Linked DNA regions of Homo sapiens. The protein of the gene in region 1 purifies or fractionates together with the protein of each later gene. This does not show direct contact. Each region holds a gene or a part of one and is shown in the gene's direction. Other genes may lie near its edges. The genes, in order: UGT1A9 and WDR20.

Evidence for each region.
Region 2: the proteins of UGT1A9 (region 1) and WDR20 purify together in Homo sapiens (affinity purification with mass spectrometry; one large-scale study listed by BioGRID and IntAct). This does not show direct contact.

Annotation. Positions count from the first base shown.
Region 1 is NC_000002.12:233,674,886-233,678,710, forward strand, and holds part of UGT1A9 (UDP-glucuronosyltransferase 1A9 precursor), read left to right. Parts: intron 1-3,825.
Region 2 is NC_000014.9:102,142,795-102,146,619, forward strand, and holds part of WDR20 (WD repeat-containing protein 20), read left to right. Parts: intron 1-3,825. UniProt on the Homo sapiens protein: Regulator of deubiquitinating complexes. Activates deubiquitinating activity of complexes containing USP12. Anchors at the base of the ubiquitin-contacting loop of USP12 and remotely modulates the catalytic center of the enzyme.

The DNA of each region.
Region 1 (3,825 bases):
TATTGCTCCTTCCTTGTTTCAGATGCCAGGATGTGTCTGGGAAAAGCATGCAGTTGGTTACATCTTGCTGGGAAACAGGATTCAGAGTCTGTGTCTTATCTGTCTGATGAGAAGGAAGCATTACTTGATGATGGAGTATGTGTTTGCACATGTATGTGTTTGTGTATGTGCAGGTGTGTTTGTGTGCAGTGTCCCAGACCCTGCATAGGGGATTTTCTTGAAGGTCTCCTGTAACAAAATCTCCTTGAGGCTATCCAGGGGAATTACATCCAGGGATGTAATTAAATACTTTAACAAGGATGGCAGATGGCCCCGTCTTCAATGTCAGGGATCAAATTTCAACGTGAGATTTGGAGGGGACAAACTTCTAAACTATATCATTCCGTGTGGTCATTCTTTTACATTCCAGCGTTCTAATGTGTGTGTGTTGATTAATGATGTGTAAATAATTCAGCAGAACATTGAAATAGTTTTAATGGCAAAAAGAGGAGGTCCCTAGTCTTTTTGAATTTTTGATGAGTTCCAACAGAATTAATGACTGGTTTTAGGTGAAAAGAATTCAGGCTTTGTCTATACCATCCATGGCAGGTGCGGCTCTGGGGGTGGGATATGGTTACAGATAAATAAGAGATCTGTGCTTCCCCCCTTGCTGTAAGATTCTGGCTATAGTCCAAGATCCAAATTCAAAGTTAGCTTTTGGTGGACAAGACTAAGGCCTCCCACTAAAATTATTTACTTCAAGTTTTTATTTTCAAAGTTTTCAAACATACACAATGGAGAGACTCAGTGTAATGAGCACCCACTTATCCATTCTTAGGTTAAATAATTTTCACTATTTTGCTCTACTAATTCATCTATCCCTTTATTCTATCTTTTTAAAGAAAACTTTTAAAAATAAATTTGTATGTTTTTAAAAAGAAATTCTTGGCATGTCATTCCATCACTGAACAATTCATTTAATATAAAAAATAAGAAAAATTTGTTACATAGCCACAATATCATTATCATATCTAAGACAATAAAAATTCTTTAATATTATCTCATTTACAGTCCATAATAAAATTTCCCCGGATTGTCTCACACAACATCTTTCCATACAGATCAATGGAATAGAATGGAGAATTCAGAAATAAACCCATACATATACATCCTTGGCCAATTGACTAGGTGCCAAAGTTTGACAAGTGTGTCAAGATCATTCAAATGGGAAAGAATAGTCTTTTCAACAGAAGACCCACCCTGGGGTCCTTGAGCTCCAGCGTCAGACTCCAAAACCATTTGTGGAAATCATCCAGCCACCTCCCACCATGCCTCTGATGAATCCTTCACCGATGGATTCATCAGAAGCATGGTTGATGATGAATTCACTGATGAATCACCCCTGTGTGCATCCACAGGGGTCCTGCAAATATTTTCTCACAGTCTGTTGAGTGACTTTTCTTACAAATACTTCATTGTAGAATAAATATAGGATTATAGCAAGGTTACAACAAATAGTTTAGAGAATTTTCATCTACCCTGTGTCCAGTTTCCACCATTGTTAAATCTCATGTTTCTATGGCACATCCATCACAACTCATTCACCAATATTGACGCATAATGATGAGCTAAAAGCTAAAGTCTGTTTCCTTCAGATTTCATTAATTTTTACTTAATTTCCCTGTTCTTTTATGGGATCCCAGTGATACCACCTGAAATGTAGTCATCATGTCTCCTTTGTCTCCTCCAGCCTGTGACGGTTTCTCAGACTCTCCTTGTTTTTAGTGACTTGGGCAGTTTCGAGCAGTCCTAGTCAGGTGTCCTGTAGAATGTTCCTCTAGAATGTCAGTGTGTGTTTTGCCTGATGTTTTCATCGTGGTAAAACTGGGTTTATAGACTTTTGGTAGGAAGACACAGAGGTCTTTTCTTGTTTTCTTGCGTGTGAATATTCAACTGTAGAAAAACAGAACCTTTTCTCCACTGCATTGCCTTTGTACCTTTGTAAAAACTTGGTTGTTCATACATCTGTGCACGTATTTCTAGACTTTGTATTCTGTTCTGTTGATCTATTTGTGAAATATTTGATTACTATAGCTGTGTAATAATCTATAAATGAGGTAGTGTTACCTCTAATTTTTTTTTTCAAATTGCTTTTGCTATTGGAGGTCTTTTGCATTACCATATGCATTTTAAAATAAGTTCATTAATGTGTGCAAAAATCCTGCTAGGATTTTGATTGGGATTGTATTTTATTTATAGATCAACTGGGGAGAAACAACATCTTAGCAATTTTGAGTTTTCCAATTCATTAACATATCTTTTTATTTAGGTCCGTCATCAGTGCTCTGTAGTTTTCAATGTACAGTCTTTCACATCCTTTGTCAGATATATCCCTAAGTATATCATGTTTTTGATGCTATTTAAGTGGTATTTTTAATCCAGTTTTCAAGTGTTCATTGCTAGTATAGTTGACCCCTGAACAATGTGGGAATGAAGGGGACCAACCCGTGTGTAGTAGAAAATCCGCATAGAACTTTTGATTCTCCAAAAACTTAACTACTAATAGCCAACTGTTTACCAAAAGCCTTGCCAATACCATAAACAGTCAATTAACACATAGTTTGTATGTTATTAGTATTATATCCTGTATTATGACAATGCAGCTAGCTAGAGAAAAGAAAATGTTATTAAAAAACGTAACATATGAAAAAATGCTCAACATCACTAGTTACCAGAAAAATGAAGATGAAAACCACAATAAGATATCATCTCACACCAGTTAGAATGGCTGTTATTAAAAAGTCAAGAAATAATAGATGCTGGTGAGGCTGCTGAGAAAAGGGAACACTTGTACCCTCTTGGTGGGAATGCAAATTAGTTCATCCCCTGTGGGAAGTAGTTTGGAGATTTTGCAAAGAACTTAAAACAGAACTGTCATTCGACCCAGCAATCCCATTACTAGATATATGTAAAAAAAATCGTTTTACCAAGAAACACATGCACTGGTATGTTCATTGCAGCTCTATTCAGAATAGAAAAGACATGAAATCAACCTAGGTGCCCGTCAACAGTGGCTTAGATGAAGAAAATGTGGAACACATACTCCATGGAATATGCAGCCATAAAAAAAGAATGAAATCATGTCCTTTGTAACAACATGGATGCAGCTGGAGGTCATTACCCTAAGGGAATATATACAGGCACAGAACACCAAATACCATTGTTTTCACTTAGAAATGGGAGCTAAATAGTGGGTACTTTTGGGCATAAAGATGGCAACAATAGACACTATGGACTCCTAAAAGGGAGAGGAAAGGCTGCAAGAGTTGAAAAACTATTGGGTACTATGCTCAGTACTTGGGTGATGGGAGCAATCATGCCCCAAACATCAGCATCACACAATATACTCAGGTAACCTGCACATGTACTCCTGAATCTAAAATAAAAGTTGAGTATGTATAAGAGGAAGTCATTCATCATAAAGGTCTCCATCCTCATCATCTTCCATTGAGTGGGCTGTGGAGGAGGAGGAGTAGATGTTGATTTTGCTGTCTCAGGGTGGCAGAGGCAGAAGAGGTAGAGGAGGTGGAAGTGGAGGCAGGAGAGGCAGGTGCACTTGGTGTAACCTTATGGAAATACATCATAATTACTGTCTGTTTTTTTCTCTTTGATGTATTTAAAAATGCTTTTATACAGTACTAATCCTTCTTCCCCATTTGCTTTAGTTTCAGTGCCCATAAGGGTTCATGTCTTAATAGAAGTCAATAGCAGTCTTAAATAATTGGAAGCATTTCTATGAGGCTTGTATTGTGTAAGGCCAATTTTTTTTCTGGCACTGCTTCTTCT
Region 2 (3,825 bases), on another chromosome or scaffold:
TTTGGTCCTTTGAGGCGTGTAAAATTTTACAATAATTATTTGGATTATTCAGAAGATCTAATTTAGATGAGTAAATTCAACTTAAGTCTGTGTGTAAAATGAGTAGAAAATAGGTCTTTTAAAGAACTTAACTCATTAATTACGTGCTACCATTCCTGAGAGGAAACATGGGGTCCTGGGGAAATGGAGTAGGTGAGGAAGTAGTCTAACGTTCATGCTGAGGAGTGCAATCTTGATCCTTTTAAAAGGTTTACAGGTCAGTGTCTGGAGCTAGAAGGAACTTTAGAGTTTGTTATTTCACCCTCCTCAGAGCGAACCAAGGCCAGAGAGGGGATGCAAACCTGTTAGAATTTTTTCTCATAGTAAGGAAAATGAAGCACAGCTGAGTCTAAACCAGCTTAGAAGAGACTGATCCACCTTTTTGATCACAGGGATATTATATACTCCGAGCACTTCAGAATCTACCCCGGCATTTTGCCATATATTATTTTATTAAATTCTTGAGGTAGATTAAAACATCTTTTCACAATCGAGGAAGTTTAGAGTGGGGTTTCTTGTGTGAGGAGATGTAGTTTTGCAAATTTATTTAAAGACAGTATTAACATTGATTTAATACTGACACTAATCATTTTACCAGATTTGAGTGACTACTGTGATAGTAATAATACCAGGCAAGGTGATGTGAGGTATTCAGAGCTAAATAAGACCCTGTCCCTCTCCCCAAAAGACTTTCAACTACTAGCTTTTAAACATCTTTTTTTTTTTTTTGAGACAAAGTCTAGCTCTGTCACCCAGGGTGGAGTGCAGTGGCACAATCTCGGCTCACTGCAACCTCTGCCTCCTAGGTTCAAGCGATTCTCCTCCCTCAGCCTCCCGAGCAGCTGGGACTACAGGTGCGTACCACCACGCCCAGCTAATTTTTGTATTTTTGGTAGAGATGGGGTTTCATCATATTGGCCAGGCTGGTCTCGAACTCCTGACCTCGTGATCCACCCTCCTCGGCCTTCCAAAGTGCTGGGATTACAGGCGTGAGCCACTGCGCCCGGCCGTAAACATCTTTATTACATACTTTGTTCTCCTTTTTTAAAAAAAGAGATTGTGGTCGGGTGCAGTGGCTCATACCTGTAATCCCAGCACTTTGGGAGACTGAGGTGGGAGGATCGCTTGAGCCCAGGAGTTTGAGACCAGCCTGGATAATATATCAATACCCTGTGTCCACAAAAAAATAATAAAAAAAAAATTAGCTGGCCATGGTGGTATGTGCCTGTAGTCACAGCTACTTGGGAAGCGAGGAGGGCTCTTGAGCCGAAGAGTTAAGGTTACAGTGAGCTATGATTGTGCCACTGTACCCCAACCTGGGCAACAGAATGAGACCCTTTCTTTAAAACAACAAAAAAGGGGAGTGGGGCTATGCGCCATGGCTCACACCTGTAATCTCAGCGCTTTGGGAGGCCGAGGCAGGTAGATGACCTGAGGTCAGGAGTTTGAGACCAGCCTGGCCAACATGGTAAAACCCCATCTCTACTAAAAATACAAAATTAGCTGGGCGTGGTGGTGCTTGCCTATAGTCCCAGCTACTCGGGAGGCCGAGGCAGGAGAATCACTTGAACCCTGGAGTCGGAGGTTGCAGTGAGCCAAGATCATACCACCGCACTCCAGCCTGGGCGACAGAGCTAGACTCTGTCTCAAAAAAAAAAAAAAAAGATTGTTTTAGGATGTAGGATAAAAGATGCCAAAGGTAAGGTAGCTGGGCTTATTGGACCAATCCTCTCATTTTATGGACATCTGTTTTTACATAAATATGAATGGCCTCCATTCAGATCTCAGCTTAACCATCACTTCCTCAGGAAATTTTTCTTTGAATCCCCATGGTGTATCAGTTTTACCCTATTACATGTTTTTTTGTTTTGTTTTTTTTTTTGTTTTTGAGACAGAATCTTGCTCTGTTGCCCAGGCTGGAGTGCAGTGATGTGATCTTGGCTCACTGCAACCTCTGCCGCCCGGGCCCAAGTGATTCTTGGGCTACTCCCGAGTAGCTGGGATTACAGGCATGTGCCACCATGCCCAGCTCATTTTTGTATTTTAATAGAGACGGGGTTTTGCCATGTTGGCCAGGCTGGTCTTGAACTCCTGGCCTCAAGTGATTCACCTGCCTCAGCCTCCCAAAGCACTGGGATTACAGGCTCTATGTTCTTAGAGCATCTTGTGCTTTGCCTTCCTAGCACTTTTCTGAATTTGTAATTCTGTGTGATGATCCAACTGTGCCTTCTATAAAACAAAGCTCCCTTAGAATAGGGACATTATCTTTCCTGCTCTCCATCTTCTCAATGCACAGTGCAGTGTCCAGTTTAGAGTTAGGCCCTTGCTGTGTACTTGTTGAGTGAATGACTGAGTAAAGCCATGTCTGTCTATACCAAACTTGAAAGAGATCTTTAGAAGATGAAAAACCTATTCAGTTTTGGGCCCAAAAGTAACTTGGGTATTTTTTAATAGCTCATATCTTTTAAAAGACATTTAAAAATATTGCTAGTAGGTAAAAAATTTAACCTTCTTAAAATAGGGAAATCGTGTAAGAGACAATGAAGTAATAGTAAACAAATGACACAGATTACTTTTGATCTACTTCTGTCAAACCATGTCACCTACAAGATCCATGTACAACTTTTAAAAACTGTTCTCAGGCCAGGAGTGGTGGCTCATACCTATAATCCTAACACTTTTGGGAGGCCAAGGCGGGAGGATTGCAGGGGTCCAGCCTGGGCAACACAGTGAAACCTCGTGTGGGTTCGAGACCAGCCTGGACAACATAGTGAAACCCTGTCTCTACAAGGGTGGGCGTGGTGTCATGTGCCTCTAGTCCCACCTACTTGGAAGGCTGAGGTAGAAGGGTCACTTGAACTGGGGAGGTTGAGGCTGCAGTGAGCTGTAATCGTGCCACTGCACTCCAGCCCGGGCAAGAGAGTGAGAGCCTGTTTCAAAAAAACAAAACAATCAATAATAAACAAAAACTATACTCAGAATTACTTAACATTCAAGCCAAAGAACCTTCCTACCTTCCCACATCTTAAGATTCCAGGTCACAAATGTACTGCCCAGAGAAGTTACTGAAGTGGTAACTACAGGAGGTAGGAAGTAGATTTAGAGGATTCTAAGGTTTTTCCATCTCTAAAGCTTATATGATTCTGTACTCAGTTGTTTTTTTTTTTTTTAAATGGAAATGGATTCATCATTCTATTGGGGAGGTATCTTCATCTCTTTGATTCATTGCCTACTTGATTTGGAATTGAGAGGGGTGGGGTGTTTGGGAAAGCAAGCTGAAAACATTGTGATTTCTAGGTATTTATGCTGGAAGAGTTTTTTTGTTTGTTTGTTTGTTTGTTTGTTTTTGAGACGAAGTCTTGCTCTGTCGCCCAGGCTGGAGTGCAGTGGCTTGATCTTGGCTCACTGTGACCTCTGGCACCCGGGTTTTAAGCGATTCTCCTGCCTCAGCCTCCGAAGTAGCTGGGATTACAGGCACTTGCCACCATGCCCAGCTAATTTTTGTATATTTAGTAGAGACAGGGTTTCAGCATCTTGGCCAGGCTGGTCTTGAACTCCTGACCTTGTGATCCACCCGTCTCGGCCTCTCAAAGTGCTGGGATTACAGGTGTGAATCACCATGCCCGGCTAGAAGAGCTTTATGTTCATGATGCTGAGATGAAGTTGGGGCCAGAAGAAGAGTCAGTTGATAAAAGCTAAAGTATTTTTAGATCCTGATTAAAGAAGAAGGTAATGGGTTGACTTGAGAGAGAATGAGCGTTCTGTTATGGGAATGCTCATATGGGA